2 separate regions of the Homo sapiens genome follow, and region 1 is linked to region 2. The links come from fine-mapping of genetic effects on gene expression. A gene starts in region 2. The other region holds a variant in brackets. All regions are shown on one strand. Distances are between the middles of the regions. Region 1 has its middle 66 kb from the start of ELFN2. Region 2 holds the start of ELFN2 (extracellular leucine rich repeat and fibronectin type III domain containing 2).

Evidence for each region. PIP is the estimated chance that this variant, and not a neighbour inherited with it, causes the effect.
Region 1: its variant is fine-mapped to the expression of ELFN2 in testis (GTEx, PIP above 0.99). The same link has a PIP of 0.9 or more in anterior cingulate cortex, caudate, cerebral cortex, hippocampus, hypothalamus and nucleus accumbens.

What each region holds. Positions count from the first base shown.
Region 1 is chr22:37,357,366-37,365,685 of GRCh38, reverse strand. It overlaps a transcript of ELFN2 not described here. Among named protein-coding and RNA genes, the nearest start is that of ELFN2, 66 kb to the left of the region's middle. The variant A/G (reference allele first, on the strand shown) is at 3,454.
Region 2 is chr22:37,423,294-37,431,613 of GRCh38, reverse strand. ELFN2 (extracellular leucine rich repeat and fibronectin type III domain containing 2) reads left to right here and starts at 4,135. Exons shown (of 3, transcript NM_052906.5): 1 at 4,135-4,316.

The sequences.
Region 1 (8,320 bases), 66 kb after region 2:
CCATAGTTGCCAGGGGCACCCCACTTTGGCACGTTCTGTGTCATGCCCTCTAAGTGGGGTGCACTTCTCAAGCCTCGCCCAAGGGCTAAACTGCTGGTATATAAGTTCTTCCTCCTTTTCCTTCCTTCTTTTTTTCCAAGATATCTGTAACTCAAACTTCACCGACCACCGGCCCTCTCCAGCCCGGGCAGGCTTCCTTCTCTAGCTTCTTTGATGTTCTTCCCCGCAGCAGGGCTCCAGGGAAGCTAGGTGTCCTCAGCACAGTTCCCTGGTCTCTGCTGGGGCTTGGTTTGAAGGAGTTGACAGTTCCAAGGTGACTCTGGTGACCCTTGTAGCTACTGGGCCAGGAACTTCCTTTTCTGTTTAGTTGTTTAGCTGAATATTCCCCTCCCTCAAGCTCCCCCTGCCTCAACAACTATAAATGTTTTCCAGAGGTGAGCCTAAAATGAGCCCTTGTGGCTGCAGGGTTTGGGGGATCACTGGATCTCACTGGTTCTCAGGGTCTCCTTTATTTAGTCTCTGAAGGCAGGGTTCCAGGCACTCAGCCCCAGGCCCAGTGTCTCAGAGGCTGGCCTCCTCCTGCTCCTGTCATTGGTGGGTCCAGGGTCACTGTGGGACCCACTGGTTCTCTCCTCTGGGCTCAGCCTGGGCAGCCTGTCCTGGACCCCTGCCCCACCTGCTCCTCTGGTGCCCTCCCACCATCTGCTGTTCATTTTTGTCACAGCCCGGAAGCATTCCTGCTCCTTCTCAGATTTAGGAGGTACCTTGTCTCTCTGGTCAGGCTGAGGCACTCAGGTCAGCATCCAGTGACCTCAGGCTGAACTGCCCAAGCCTTTGTTCGGGGGCAGCCTGGGGCCCACCGCCCAGCCCCAGCCTCCTTGCTTCCCAGAGGCAGAGCCCACCTGCCCTTTTCTCAGACTCCTGTTCTCCAACTGCTACCAACCCCTCTTCCAGGAAGGCCCCTGGATTTGGCCTGGATTGTTATGGCTTGCTTTAAATGAACTCCCTTGTCCTAAGCTATTCCCTGTGACTGGTGTCACAGCGTGGCACTCATCCCTGGCCTGTGTCTACAGGAGCTGTGTCCTGCTGGCTCTGGTGGCCCATGGGGTTTCCTGCTCCCTTCCTGCCTCCATGGGAGTTGGCTGAACTGTGGGGACCCTCTGGGATGACCCAGGGCTTGGCCCCTCACTGTTTTCCTGCCTGGGCCCCAGCTGGCCCCTGTCCCCTCTGAGTGCCCTCACACAGGCCCAGTGCAGCTGTCCCAGTGGGGCTGTGGCCAGGCCAGTCTCTCTCTTGCTCTGCACCCCCGGCTCTTTCCTGGCAGCCCTTGTGCTTCTTCCGGAGCCCCTCATCCCTGAGGCTGCCCCGTGGCCCTGTGCCTGGCCCTGAATCCCAGGCAATCCTCCCTTGCTGCCGCCACCACCCTGGCCTCCCCGAGGCTTCCATCCTATTGGTGTTGTGAGGTTAGGGTCTGCAAGCCCCTTTTTCCAGGAAAGCCTTTACTGTCTAGTCCTTGGCCAAGGGAGGCTTAGGTGATCCCTGCTGGCTCAGGTGTTTTCTTCATATTCTTCCCAGACTGTGGGGCTGGGGAATCCAATTCTGAGTTCTGCTCTTGGTCTCACTTTACCCCAATTCCCCTGGATTGCAGGTCCCATCTGCAGCTTCCTGGTCTCTGCATCTGAGGACTCCCACATGGGGAACTGGTTGGCCCCATGAGCCTCCTTCCCAAGGCCCTTTGTCTGCAAGGAAGGAGACCTGATGCTAGGTGTGCATTGGAGGTGACGGTTCTGGCCTCCCGCTGTCACTGTCTTCCCAACCCTGCACCTGTGGGTCACCCTCTGCTCCTTGTTGTCCAGGCTGCTCTCGGCCCTGCCGTTCTGGGAGCTCAGCCATTGCCCCCTCCCTCAGGCATGTGGGGACATGTCAGGAAGCTAGGGCTTTTCTGCTTTCCCCACCACTCCTGCCTGGAGGGTTTCACGGCTAGACTCCTAGGGCCCAACCTCCAGTTGAGGCCCGGGCTGCCTCTCCGGCATATGCTGGCAGCCCCTTCTCCTTCCCTAGGCCTAGGGCCCCAGCCTGCTGTCAGCGCCAAGCCCACGACACCCATTCTTACCCAGTCCCCACCCCAAATCCCCCTCTCTCTGTTGGCCTCCTCTAAAACTGCCCTCACCTGCATCTCAGACCGCGCATCTTCCGTCCTCCCCGTCCTTGCCAAACTAAGCAAGGTCACGTGTGAAGGAGTTCCCAGGGGGGTGAAACTCCTCCAGCAACTCTCGCCTCCCCTGATTTAGATAACTCCCAGAATCTGCAATGGTCTAGGGGGAGAAAACTCACTCATCTGCCCCTCTCTCTTCTCACTTACTTTTCAAACAAATTGTATGGCTCAATCCCCATATGTTAAGCACCATGGCTGTGAATTTATAGACTTCAGTCCGGTTTCTATTGCAGAGAACAGAATTCTCTGTAACTAATTTAAGCAGGAAAAAAAAATTCACAAGAGGAAACCAAGTGGTGGATGGAATTGTCAGGAGGGCTGCAGACCAGACTCAGGGGTAGCCTTTTCAAACTGACTTTTAAAATAACTACGCAGGACTGACCCACCAAGGGAGCTGCCACCTGTTTCTGCTTCATGGGGCTGCTGAGGGAATGAATCGGTACCTCGGGGGGCCCTGGGCTGCTGTTGCCAGGATCACAGCAGCTGCAGGGGTACCCCTTGGGTGCTGGCAATGGGCTGTGGACTCTCATTCTAGGGCAGGGACGATGGCGGTAGAAGCATCTCTCTGCCTCACTGCTTCCTTCCAAGGCTCTCAGAAGAGCATCTGATCTGTAGAGCCCAAACATCTGTCCTGCAGCTTTAAGAGGGTTTGGCAGGGTTGGGCTGATGCCTCACATCTGGTGTGTGGACCAGGGTGTGTTTATTTCCTCGGCAGCTCCATGAAGTAGGGGCTTTACCCCTGCTCTACACTTTGGGGGAAAGACTCAGAGACAGTAATTGGCCCAAGCAAGCACAGCATACCCAGAAGAGCTGGAAGGAGCTCTAACCCACTTTACTCCCAAACTTTGCCTGTTCCCCTGGAGGTCAGGGCCCAAAGACCCGAGTCCCAGATCGGGCATGGCCCAACGTCCCAACCTTAGGCCAGTGGAGTGTCGAGAGATGCCACCTGTACAATAATCCTGGGGCCTGTGCCGGCCCTGTCAACCCCTGCATCTCGTGTCTTGTTGCTAAAATTCTGGTTCCTGCTGAGATGTCTGCTCCAAATCTTTCCTTTAAAGATGGGAAGAATGAGCCCCCCAAAATAAGGGTTGGAAACGGGGAGAGCCTTCCTGTGGTCATAGGAAGCATGATCAGGGAAGAAGAGGTTACGTCTGGCAGTTATTTAGATTATAACCCAGAGACGGGGGGAGGAGGAGGCAGGTGGCACCAGGATTAAGGGGGTCCCTGCCACAGGGCAT[A/G]TATGTGAGAAGGGTCTGCTCTGACCCTCTCCTAGCCCCCTGCTCTTCCCCACGGGCTGATGAGTCTGCAGGGCCCACGGGCATTCCCAGACACTTTCCACTTGACCATGCTCCAAGCACCTGGGATGCCAGGATTGACTGTCCAGTTGGCCCCGGACATGTTTCCAAGGCCTGTCCTTCCCAGGGTGGACCGTGCCACCCATGTGGGCACTCCTAGGCATGAGAGATGACCAAGGAGTAGCTGCGTGTGGGAGGTGTAGGCAGGGCTTGAATGCGTGGGGTGGCAGTCTCTATGCATGCCTGTGAGACCCTTTAAGTTGTGAGATAGTGCTGTGGGCGAGAAGAGGGTGTCCTATGGGCCGGAGAATGGGGCTTGACTTTCCATAGGCCACCACATTTAGGGAGGCCAGGAATTTGAAATTCAAACCTGTTAGAGGTCATCGTGAAGGTACATTTGTCAAGGCAGGAGGATATTCTAACAGTTTGTTAGCTGAATGGAGAACTTTTCAGTATTTAGACACACAGGATTTGGGCTTCCCTTTGTACTCACGCCCAGGCCTAGGAAATACTAGGGATAGGCCTGGGCTCTGAGTTAATGGGGCCTGGGGGTAGAAGTCAGATGGTGTGGGATGGGCCCACTGTTTGGAGGAAAAGGCTATACATGGAGGAAAAGGGAGAGGAAGTGGTTTTGCTGTTTTGTGTCTGGGCAGGAGCAGGGTGGGCTTGGAAGGCTGCTCACAGAGGAGGGAACGACCCTGCGGGGACTGGGGAGGTGGAAGGGGAGATGGCGTCACTTGGGCCCAGGAGTTGAGTGGGGCTGGCAGGAACTTCTCCTGGGGGTGGGAGGAAGGTGGGATGGAACTGGCAACTCATGGAGGGCAGGATAAGGGGGTAGGGAGGAGGGGGGCTCAGAAAGTCACTTTACATTTGGAGTGTCTTCCTTTTGCCCTTTCCAGCTAAGTAAAAAGCATATTTTTCTCTTTACTGCTGCTCAGCAGCATCTCATGGCCCCATTGCTTTTCCTAGTTTCTTGCTCTGAGGGTCAACTCACAAGTCTTCTTCTACATGCCATGTGAGGCACCAGCCCTGGCTGGCACCTGTGGTGGGAAAGCCTAAAGGAGACAGCACCTCTGTCTCTGGGGAGCTGCCGGGATGTGGCTGTCCCTTAGCTGTTTATAACGGTCCTTTGACATGGTTCAGGTGAGGGTTAAAGGCGGGAAGTAACCCTAGGAGACAGTGGAGCCTCGAGTGGCTCAGTCCCTGCTGTAAACCCCATTCCAGAGGGCACAGTCCACCCATCACATAGCACTAGAGGGGAGCGCCGCGCTTCACTCTGCCCACTGCAGTGAGGCTTCTGGGCCATCTTGGTTCTTCATCTCCATTTTTGTTCTGCCTTGTACGAGCCTCTTCTTTGTTCTGCTTTGTTGCCTCATGGCCAGAGCTGCTCTTGCCTCCTGTTTTGTGTCTGATATTTCAGTTTCTGCAGCTCCCATTTCCTGTCTTTGGCCCCTGCTTTCCCAGCTGCTTTCGGTCTAAGGAGCTTTCTGACTTTAGGACCTGAGAGTGGAAGTCTCCCCACTGACTCCCTGTTGACAGCTGATCATCGACTCCCCTCAGTCTCACCCTGAGCTGTCCCTGTGCCAGCCGGATGGAGGTTGCTAAGCAGGGGTGGCGTGGGGTGTACAGAGGTACGTGGTCCACGGCTCTTAACTGGAGGACTTCACTGAGGGACGAGTCACCCACTGTGTGTCCGCACTGTGCTCACACACAGAGCTTCCAGTGCCACCTCACAAGAGAGCCATGAGGTAGGCATGAGGCCGTTTGAGTTCTGTTGTACTCCAATGAGGAAAAGGTACTTACTTTTACCCTCCGTGTATGGACCAGGGAACTGAGGCCCAACAAATGCTGATTAACGCAGGCAAGGGCTGGCTGCCCACTCTCCCTGACTCCAGGAGCTCATGTCCCCATCCCAGGCCTGGCTGCCTCTACACCCATAAATGCATGATGAGACACCCCAGGCCAGACTATGAACTTAGGGCTGGACTGACCACCAGGGAGTGTGGTTGAGGTGGGAGACGGAGACTCAACTCTAGACCAGATTGAAGAGTGGCTAAAACAGGAAGAGGCCCTGAAAGCACCTCTCTCCAGAAGTCATGCCCACCACCAGCACCATGAGTTTTACCTTTGTCTATAGCAATACCCGGAAGTTACTGCCCCTTTCCATGGCAATGACCTGGAAGTTACAGCTCCTTTTCTAGAAATTTCTAAATAACCTGCCCCTTAATTTGCATGTGATGAAAAGTGGGTATAAACATGACTGCAGAACTCCTCCTGAGCTGCTGCTGTCAGCACACTGCCCGTGGGGTAGCCCTGCTCTGCAGGGGCAATCACAGAGCTGTAACACTATCACCTCTGTAAAGCTGTTTCTTCCACCACCAGCTCACACTTGAATTCTTTCCTGAGCAAAGCCGAGAAACTTCTTAGGGTAGGCTCCAAGTCTGGGGCTCGTCTGCCCTGCCCCATGGTGGTCAGGCAGTACTGGGCCTTGGAGTGCTCCTCCGAACTCCAGAGCCTCAATTTCCACCTCTGTGAAATGGATTGAGCTACTCCTGCTTCACGTAGCTGTATCGAGGCACGGAAGCCTTGAGAGCTGAGGAGCGTTCATACCGTGGCCTGGCCCAGGTAGGGGCCGCTCGAGAATGTTGGCTGAATGAAGGAGGCTGCGACAGTGTTGCAGATACAGCAATGGAAGCAGATGCTTTGGTCAAAAGAAATAGACCCCATAGAGGGCCGAGAGCCAGGAAGGAGAGAGCCAGGAGAACCTCCGAGTGGGGTAAAGGAAGAGGGGAGTGGCAGGGGCCTGGCCAGGGAGGCCAGGGGAAGGCTCCCAAGAAGGACCAGGCCAGTGAGGGCAAAGCCGAGCCCCTTGTGCTGAGGGTCAGTGACAGCGACCTCACACCATCTGAGTCTTTCTGAGATCCAAACTTGGTTACTCTCCTTCCCTTCCTCATTTGGACCAGATGATTGCGTTTTACAAATTATATTTTCAATTCCCTGCCGGGTGGCCTTAATCCAGGTCTCCATCTCTCTCTTGGATTCCTGCCACAGCTGGAGACAGTCACGGAGGTGCTAAAGTGTCGACTCACTGATTCCCTACTTAGTGCACTCCCCCAAGCCCCAGGGCTTCCAATACCAACATATGGATATATGTTGGTGACTTCCAGCCCCACGTCCATCTCAGATAGCCCAGCGGCCCCCAGTCCTCCTGCTTCCTATGTAAGTGGCAGTCCCCTGCCACTCAAGCCAACATGATGGGCCGTTTTTTTGGAGCTAGTCTCCACCTTCCCCTCATCTCATACTGACTTGATCTTGACAACTCATCTCAATCTGGCTGCTCCTCTCCATGTACCCATTCCCCTTGGGGTGCAAGCCACACCACCCTTCACTTGGGGGATGATAGCAGCCAGTGGGCCCACATCTGGCTGTGCCCCTCATCTGTTAGATAATCTCACAGGCTCTTCCAGCCATGCTGAGAAGGCCCATCACCGACTCATGCCTCTGGACCTTGGCACCTGCCAGAAATGGTAGTCCCACTCCCCCTGCCAGTGATTGGCTTAGGAATGGCCACGGGACCCAGTTCCAACCAGGAAGAGGAAATGGGACGAGAAGAATGATCCTCCTTTAGAATCGGTTGTATCTAATCGGGATGCAGATGCCTGAAACTCTGCAGTTTAGGAAACACTAGGGCCCTCTCTGTGAAACATTGAGATGTCCAAGTGGAAAGAGAACAAATCCTGTATTCGAAGAAACGGTGGACCGAGGCTCGCCCCGGCGGACCTGGACCTGCGTGCCTCTGCCTTCTCATGTGAACTGATGTCTCTTGCTTGAACTCACTTGAGTAAAGGTTTTGTGCCACTTGTAGCATGTGCAGATGTAACCATCAACACGGAACTCCTACTTCCTGGAGACTGGGGGGGATTTGAACTTACTGTAGGTTCACGGAGTGACAAAGCTGTTTCTAGGGCCGATGCAGCCGTGGGCCATGTGAATAGGATCACGGGGTCTGGCCTGGGGGAGGTGAGGGTTCTGTGCTCTCCCGTACTGGCCAGACTCCACCTGGAGAGGCTATGGTCAGTCCAGGGTGAATATGCCAGGAGGGAGGTTGACCCGCCAGGTCCACCTGCTGAGAATGATAGCAATTAGAAGGGTTGGGAATCCCTGCCACGCAAGGGATGAGTGAGAAAATGGGGCTTTTTCTCCTGGCAAAGAGAAGGTTGGCTGTGGGACTTCACTTCGGCTTCAGATGCGTGCAGGGTGATGTGTGGAGGGGGTGGCCACGCTCGTGCTGCTGACCAAGAGGAAGTCGATGACAGTACAGAGTTTGTCAACAATTGAGGGCAAATTCAGACTTCAGTGGGTATCATTCTCACCCAGGGAAGTTGGTAAAAACAGAAGGGCCCAGGCCCTGTCTTTCAATAAGCCTGGGCTCCAAGTTGTTAGCACTCTAGGGGGTTCTAGGGCACCGCAACATTTTTGCAATGCCTGACTCAAGGGAAGGAAGCCAACATTTGTGAGGCATTTAACGTGAGCCACGTGTTGAGCTGGGCCCATCCCTGTGGCTCCCATTTGATTTTGACACAAATTCTTAGAGCCAAGCACTGCTACAGATGGTTTTGGGAAGTGTAGTGAGTTCCCCATAAGAAGTGTGGCTAAAAATCAGTAAGAAAAGGATGATCAGTGTGAGAGGAAAAGGAGAGTAGGAAAAGAGAATTCTTAGATGAAGCCATAAAAATGGCGAAGAAACCTATGCAAAGATACTCCTCTGTTGTGGCAGAGATCACAAGCTGTTCTCCAGTATCCACCTTCC
Region 2 (8,320 bases):
GGGCCATGCTTGTTCACCTTGAAAATAAAGGGCACTTTCTGGTGAGCTGTCAGCCAGGGGCAGCTCCTGTGCACCTCTGGGAGAAGGCCGAGCAGATGGGGTTCTGGGATGCAGGGCAGGTGCCCAGCCCACCCATGTCACCTGGCACTGACATTTCGAGGATGGTTCTGCTCCGGTTAATTTTCCTGTGCACGCGTCACTCCACCCACAGCGCAATTAGCCCAGCTGAGGGCAGGAAGTGGTACCTGGATTCACATTCCTCCAAGACTGTCCATGGTGGTGGGGAGAGGAGAAATTAGGGCGCTGGTGGGAAGGGGGGGTGGATGCTGTGTGCCCGGAAGAGAACCTCCTAACGTCTAGATTGGTGGCTTATTAATAAGAATAATGTGTGAAAATGGCCTTGCACAGTGCCTGGCCCTGAGCGAGCCCCTGACACATGGTTGCTACTTGATAGAGGTGACCAAGTGAAGAATAAGCTGGGGGAGGTGGACACATAGAGAATGAATAATGACATGATGTGATGTGTGCTGTCACTGAAGCCTTGCAGAGTGTTCTGGGAGCCGGTGGAGAAGGAAGTAGCTCAGCCAGCTCAGTTTAGGAGTGGTCAGGGGAGGCTTCACTGAGGAGGCGGCTTTCAAGCAGTACCTGAGGATAGGTAGAAAGTAGACAGGTAGGGAAGGGATCTGAGAGGAGGAAAGTCCTCCCACATCAAGGGAACAGGATCAAAAGCACAAAGGTGTGAAGATGATGGGGTGACAGATCCAACTCCATCTTCTATATGGTGGCAGAAAGTGAGTCTGGAAAGGGCAGATATTGGTGTTGCTGGGACCCAGAACATATGTGGGATGATATTGAAGATGCTGGAGGAATAAATAAGGACCAACTGCAACGGGCCTTATTTAGGCAAGTTAAAGAGTTTGGAGTTTTGGTCAGGTGCGGTGGCTCATGCCTGTAATCCCAGCACTTTGGGAGGCTGAAGCAGGAAGATCACCTGAGCTCAGGAGTTTGAGGCCAGTCTGGCCAAAATGGGGAAACCCCGTCTCTACTAAAAATACAAAAATTAGTCAGGCATGGTGGTGGGTGCCTGTAATCCCAGCTACTTGGGAGGCTGAGGCAGGACAATAGTTTGAACCTGGGAGGCGGAGGTTGCAGTGAGCGGAGGTTGCACCACTGTGAGTGGAGATTGCACCACTGCACTCCAGCCTGGGTGACAGAGAGAGGCACTGTCTCTAAAATAAATAAATAAATAGTGTTTGGATTTTATCCTGTAGCAGAGAGGGCTTACCATTCATCTCTGTATTTATTCCTGAGGCAGACATCACCAATTGATCATGCCATTTTCTGCAAAGGGTGAGCACCTCTAGGCAGCTGCTGCCAATCACTTGTCATGAGAAAGAGAACATATTTGCCTCTGTGCATGGGCTCTGGGGAGCTACTGGAGGGTTTAAACAGATGGGTGGTGAGGGAGTTTGTTGCAGGTATCCAGGTGACGGCAAGCCTGGTCTGGGGCAGTGACTGTGGGAATGGACATGTTATTGCTTACGTTTGTCTCGGTCTTAACCATTCAGCTACGGATTCTAGGCAGTCTCCTGAGCTCCCCGCTCCCCGCATTCCCAGGTCCTCAGGGTTCCCTGTGTGTGTGTCTGTGTGTTTGTGTGTGTGCATTAGGTCTGCCTGGGCTTGATTTTAATAAGGAGCTTGCTATATGTCTGGAGCTGCACTATCTCACATGGCAGCCACAAGCCACATTATGGCTATTTAAATTTAAAGTAATAACAATTAAAATTAAAAATTTAGTTCCTCAGCCACATTAGCCACAATTCCAATCACTCAATAGCCACATGCAGTTAGTGGCTACTGTCTTTGACAGTGCAGACATGTATCCTTTCCACTATGGTCTAGAGAAAGCCCAGTCGAGTGTCTAGATGGTGTGGTCCACTATGACCCTCAGGCCAGGCCAACTCTATCTTCTATATGGTGGCAGAAAGTCAGCTAAGAGCTGAAACTCTTGTCAATGTACATCTGCCCAGTAAGGGCAAAGTCTCCAAAGGGAGATTCTTAGACCGTTTTAGAGCTTCAAACAAATTCTGACCAAATCCAGCCAGACCTGGAGGTCTCCAGGGAGAAGGGAGTGGCCGGCACTGTGCTGGGGGTACTGGCTGCTTTTGCTATATTTCTTTCACAAAGGAGGAAACAGGCTCAGAGAGGGTTGTGACTTGCACTCTGGAAGATGACTGGGAATGTCTCGGAAACAGAGCAGCAAGAGGCTGTTTTGCCACTGACTCCCTGGTATTCTTTGGGGTCATCACTGCTCAGTTTCTTGGGCAGGAGCGGATTAGGTGGCATCTGCCAGTGCCCATCTCAGAAAGTGTCTGGGCCTGAGAGCCACAGGGGGGCTGTTGGCTTGGGGAGCACTCTAATTTCTCGAGGGATCCGCCAGAGGGCGCAGAGGCCGTTATGTTCCGCCTGAGGGGCTCTTCCAGCAAGGTCTTGGAGCTGGGACCCTGCTTCTTGCCCAGCCTTGTCAGGGATACACACCATGTGTTGGATACCGCCCCTGCCCTGTAGGAGGGCTCAGTTTAGAGGGCAGAGACAGCACATGGCTTGTTTGGGTTTGCAGCGAGGGACCTTGAAGGATGGGTAGGAGTGTGCCAGGCAGCCTGGGGTGCAGGTGGGGAACGCCCAATAGTCCTTCTGCATACCCCAGGACAACAAGTGGCCTGTGACCCAGTGCTTGTCTGCCCTCCCAGCCCCATCCTGGGCCGTTCCCTGTTCTTAGTTGAAAGGAGGGAGGAATTTCTGGACAGACGTTCTTTCTGCTCTACTAATACCCAACTCCGTGGAGTTCCCTGTACACACATACAAAGCTGTTTCATGCCTCTGTGCCTCTTTGCACATGCTGTTCCCAGAGTCCAGGACACCCTTCTCCTCCTTCTTTAGCTGGCCAACTCCTACTCATCCATCAAGATTCAGCTCAGGCAGTGGCTTCTTCTGGGGAGTCTCCTTATTCCAGACCTGCATGAGATGTCCCGACGGGGAGTTCCCGCAGCCTGGACTTCATCTGCTGTGCAACACCTGAGAACAGGCGCTGGTGCATGCGGTCCTATAAAAGTGATGGAGAAGTACAGGGCCTGCTGGCAGCAGGCCTCCGACATGCAGCTCGCAGGGCCTCGGGAGGAGGTGCTTGCATGCCCAAGCACCAAGTTATAGGCCCCGGGTGCCAGGCTTCTTGCATCTTCCACCTCCTCCTCCTCCTCCCAGCATCCACCCCTTTGCAGGTGGCAGCAGGTGGCAGGGGCTTTGGCGTAAGGGGCGGGGAACTGGGCCTCTGGAAGGCTAATGAAGGTTCTCTAGCTACAGATGAGCCCAGTATCCCTTGGACCTACTCCTGGAGGGGTGGGGAAAGGCAGTGAGTGCCCTGGCACAAGGTAGGGGAGCGTAAAGTCTAATACTGTCTGTAGGCTCCCTGTGTAACCTTGGGGGAATCACTCCTCTCCGAACCTCAGTTGTCTGGCCTGTAAAATGGGAACGCAGCAGCCGCACTTCCCCAGTCGCCAGCGGTTGAACGCGGGACCAACCAGCAGGGCGCAGGCGGCAGGGCATGGAGGTACAAGGCGGAGAGGGGGCCCATCAGCGGAGGCGGAGTCCAGGGGGAGGGCGAGTCCAGGCGCACTTCGGGCGGCCCCGCCGCAAGTTTGCCCCCAGCTGTTGAATGCGCTGGCGGAGGCCGGACCCGGACCCGGACCCGGATCCCGCGGGGTGAGCAGCGCAGGGGGCCGCGGCCGGGACAGGGGTCCGCCAGGCCGGGGCTCGGGTCCGTGGGGCCGCCTTCGCCTCCCCGGGCGCTGCAGCTGCAGCGGCGGCGCCAGGCGCGGCCCCAGCCCCGCGGGCGTGTGTCTGCGAGCGCGCGTGTGTCCGTGGAGCGTGCGGCCGGCTCGGGGGCGGGAGCGGGCTTGCTGCGGAAAGGCCTGCGGAGGGCACCGGGAGCGGGCGGGCTGGCGGACGGACAGACGGGGACGGACAGACGGACACAGCCTGCCGCGGTCCCTGACGCGCGCCGCTTGGCCCCTCCCGGGCGCCCTCCCCGCCGAGGCAGGGGCAGAGGCGCGGCGGCGGGGAGGAGGGGGCGGCGGCGTCTGCGCGCACACGCGCGCTCCCAGACACACACACAGACACACGCGGGCCACCCCACGGCCACGCACCCCGCACCCACACCCGCGCTCACACTCACATTCACACTCACACTCACACGCGCAGGCCCCGCGGCCGCCGCTTCCCGGAGGCGGTGCTTGGCCCGGATCCCGGCTGGGGCTGGGGTAAGTGAATTCCTCTGGATCCGAGCGCCGCGACCGACCGACCGGGGAGACGGTGGGAGTCGGGGCTGGAGCCGGAGGGCACCCCCTCCGTCAGTGGGGGTGGGGCTTGGAGAGGGACACGGAAGGGGGGATGAGACGGGGAGAGCCACCCCCAGTGTCTCCTGGGTCTGGGGATCCCCGTGAGACCCCCGGGGGACCACCCTGCGCGAGGGAGGTGGTGGTGGTGGCGGTGGGCGGAGGCGGTGGGAGGACACCGAGGACGGTCGGTGAGGTGAGCGTTTCTGGGGGTGGTGCAGAGGCTCGATGGTGGACGGTGTGCCAGCCGGTGCCACACTGCACCTCTCTGCCCTCATCTTTTCGAATCGGGGGCCCTAACCCCTCTCTTTCACGGGGTGCTGCCGGGTCAAGGCATTCATCCTCTAGCTGGTAAGAGGGGTTGACGGGGTGGATGCCTTCTAGGGGAAGGGGGGCCAGGGTGGGGCTTGACGGCGGTGGGGTTGGTAAGACCAGAATTGGGGGGTGGGGACCCTTTCAGAGGCGCTGGCCAGGGACAAGGAGGGAGGCAGCCCAGGGAGGCGGCATAAATCGCAGACACTGCAGCTCTGGCAGGGCCGGGGCCACTGCCGGGTGTGTGTGTGTGTGTGTGTTTGTGTGTGTGTGCGAGCGCGTGCCAGTGTGTGTGTGTGCGTGCGTGTGTGGGCTCCAGCAGCTGTCAGGGGACGGGGAGGGGGTGGGTGTGTTGGCTGGTGGGGCGCCGTGTGCATGTGGAGAGGATTGTGCGTGCTGTGTGTGTGTGGTGTGTGCGTGTGTGTGTGGACATGGGGTGGACCCTGCTCTCTGTCTGTATACACACAAGCGCACACACGCACACTGTCAGTGGCCTGGCAGGATTTCCTCGGAATGTTTGGAGGGAAGGGAGCTGATGTGTGTGTGTGTGTGTGCGCGCGCGCGCGTGTGCATGCACACTCGGGGAGCTTGTGTCCAAAACAGAGGCCACAGGCCATGGTGTGTCAGGCGTGCCCAAGGAGGGAGACGAGAAGGGGACAGTGGTGCTGACCGTGCACTCAGCTGGGGAGGAACGTGGTACTCGGCACTTTCTGCAGCTCAGGGCTCTGTGCTGTGCCCCTTCCCCCTGGACTCCTCCCACCCAGCAGCTGCGGCTGGAGGGCACTGCCTTGGTCCCTTGCTGAGACGCAGGTGTTGGGCTGGAGTGTGTGTGTGTGTCTGGGCTGCGGCTGTCGCTATCAGCAGGCCAGGCTGTCGGAGTCAGAAAGCTGGAGGGAGTGGGGTGCTGGCAGCACCTGGAGGAATGTGGTGGAAGCTGTGGGGCGCGGACTGCCCGGCGCGGTTACCGAGAGGCGTTTTAATATGCAAGTTGCATCATGAGATGGGACTGGGAGTGTGTGTGTGTGTGTGTGTGTGTGTGTATGTGTATGTGCATGGCTGACACCCCTGTTCTCGTGGCCCGTGGACACCTGTGGGACGTGTCACGTCTGGGCCATCAGCAAAGCATGTGGGCATGTGTGTCCCCTGAGAGGGGTGCACAGGCAGGTGCTGTCCTGATGAGCCGGGGGCCCTGCAACTGTGTGGGTGGGGAGGTGGGTACCTCTGGGCCATCAACGCCTAGGCAGGAAGAAAGAGTGTTAATTGTGGGGACATCAGGAAAAAGTATGTATGTGAGGTCAGTGAGAACCTCAGGTGTGACATAAGCTCCAGGCCGCAGGTGACGTCACTGGGACAGTTTTGTCGGAGGTTGCTCCCCCCAGCCAGAGTGTGTAAATGTGATGTCACGGGAGTGTGTGTGGCCGAGTGTGGTTATGTCTCTTGTATATGAGGGGTGGGAAGGGGAGAGGGATGGAGCCTTAGGACGCGTGGCGTGGTCCCTCCCAAGAGGCCGCCTTTCCCAGCATCCTGAGTGGGCATGGGACCCCTTTCCTTAAGTCCTGCCCCCTGAAGAGTGCACCTTCCAGGACTGGAACCCCCGAAGGAGGTTCTCACATCAGCACCATTGGCTGCTGAACTCCTTTGCCAGGTGGGCCTGGAGGCCTCCAATGTGCTGCAGCCCCCTATCTGACCTCCCCAGTCCCTGTTTTCCTCTTCATCCCAGCCAGGCCCACCACCCCTGGGTGGATGTGCTTTAATGAGTGAGTGTGTCAGTGCATGTGACAATAGAAAATGGCCATAGCCAGGGAGCGTGAGGCCATTGGTTCGAATCCCATTTTGCTGCTTTCTGTGTTTTGTGATTTAAGCATTCGCGTCGCCTCTCTGAGCCTCAGTCTCTCCTCTGTAACATGGGGTGAGGGGTTAGAGAGGTGAAGGGGGTTAAGGAGACCATGGGCCTTGTGGGGGGCGGGTGCTGATGCCTGGCATATGGTGGGGGCTCAGTCCACGTGAGCTCTGTCCTCTCACCTCCTATCCCCCTAGCCCAGAGTAGCTGCTTTCCTGTTTTGGTTTAAGTCTAACTTTGCAAAGGACTTTCTTTTCTTTCCTTGGATTTCCACGGCAGTTCTTTGAGGTGGGTGAGTTAGCCACTATTATGTGGATATTTGACAGATGAGTAAACTGAGTTCTGGAATAAGCTGTCTGTTGATTTAATGTGAATTCCATCCCCCCCCCCGCCGCCCTCAGTGGCTACAGGGAGACACATTTGATTACCCAGCCCCTTCTCGAGGGGTACCTTCCTTTCCTGGAGAGATATGGAGCTATGAGGAATTGGTGGTGGGGTGCCAGGTGATGAGCCCAAGGCCAAGAGTCTCTGGCTGGAGGAGAGGCTGCTCTTGACTCCCAGGTCAGTGCTCTCTTGCTCTTCCACCCACAAGCTCCAGAAACAGTCAGCGTGATAGGAACGGGCACACTCAGCAAGCCTTCTCCAGTGGGGCGTGTCTAGGGCGGTCACTGGGGGCTCCATGCCTGTTCCTCAATATCCCCTGAGGTCTTGTAGGATGCTTGTTTTTGGCAGCAGAATTGGGTTCCAGTGACACCCCTGCCGCATCTGCATCCTGGCTGTGTGTGACAGAGGTCAGCCTCTCCTGTCTCTGTAAGAGGGTGGTGGCAGCTTCCCTTGCGGGTGTGATGTGTGAGTGTGAAAGGGTGACAACCGTGTGCAGGGCTGGGAGGCACACATTGCTGCTACCCTCACCTGCTCCGGCCACAGTGCCTGGGGGCCAAGCTCCTCTCTCGGTGCCCCCACCTGCCCCATGTTGTGACATGTGCTGTGTGGAGTGGATGGCCGAGAAGTAGGATTGCCTCGAAACCTGACGCTTCTTAGCAAGTTAGACCTCTTCAGGAGCTGTGTTAATCGTCTAGAAGGTTTACCCAGTCCTCTGCCTCCTGCCGTCCCAGCCCAATCCCTGATTAAATTAACCTTCTCTTGGCTCAATTACCACCTGGGGCAGAGGCATTGACATTATTACTGGAGATGGTGTCTGGGGGTTGGAATAATTGAGCCCCCTCTCCTTCCCCCTAGCTCTGCCGACAGTCCCCAGGAAAGCCCCAGAGAAGCCCTGAGGACTCAAGAGCCACCTGGGCAGGCTTGCTTATGCCTGGGGTGCCAGAGGAAGGGTGCTGGCTGCACGATGCTGCTGATTGAAATAGTAATAACTATAGTGATAATAATAATAATGATATCAGCTAATATTATTGAGCCCCTACTGAGAGCCAGGCCCGGTTCGAAGCTCTTTATGGGCGGCATTCGTTTAGTCCCACAAAAGCCAGCTGCAGCAGGCACTATTATTATTCCTCATTTTGAAGACAAGAAACAGAGAGGTTACAGACCAGTCCAGGGCCACACAGCGATGGAACCAGGACTGGAACCCTCGAAGGGAAACTCTCACATCAGCACCATTGGCTGCTGAACTCCTTTGCCAGATGGGCCTGGAGGCCTCTACATCTTGGCCTACCCCTCTCACTGAAGGCCCTTTCTGGGCCTTGCTTTGCTTATCTGTAAATGGGTGCAGTGACCCTGCCCTAGGGAAGCTGGGGGTGGCGGACGCCCTTTGCTTTGG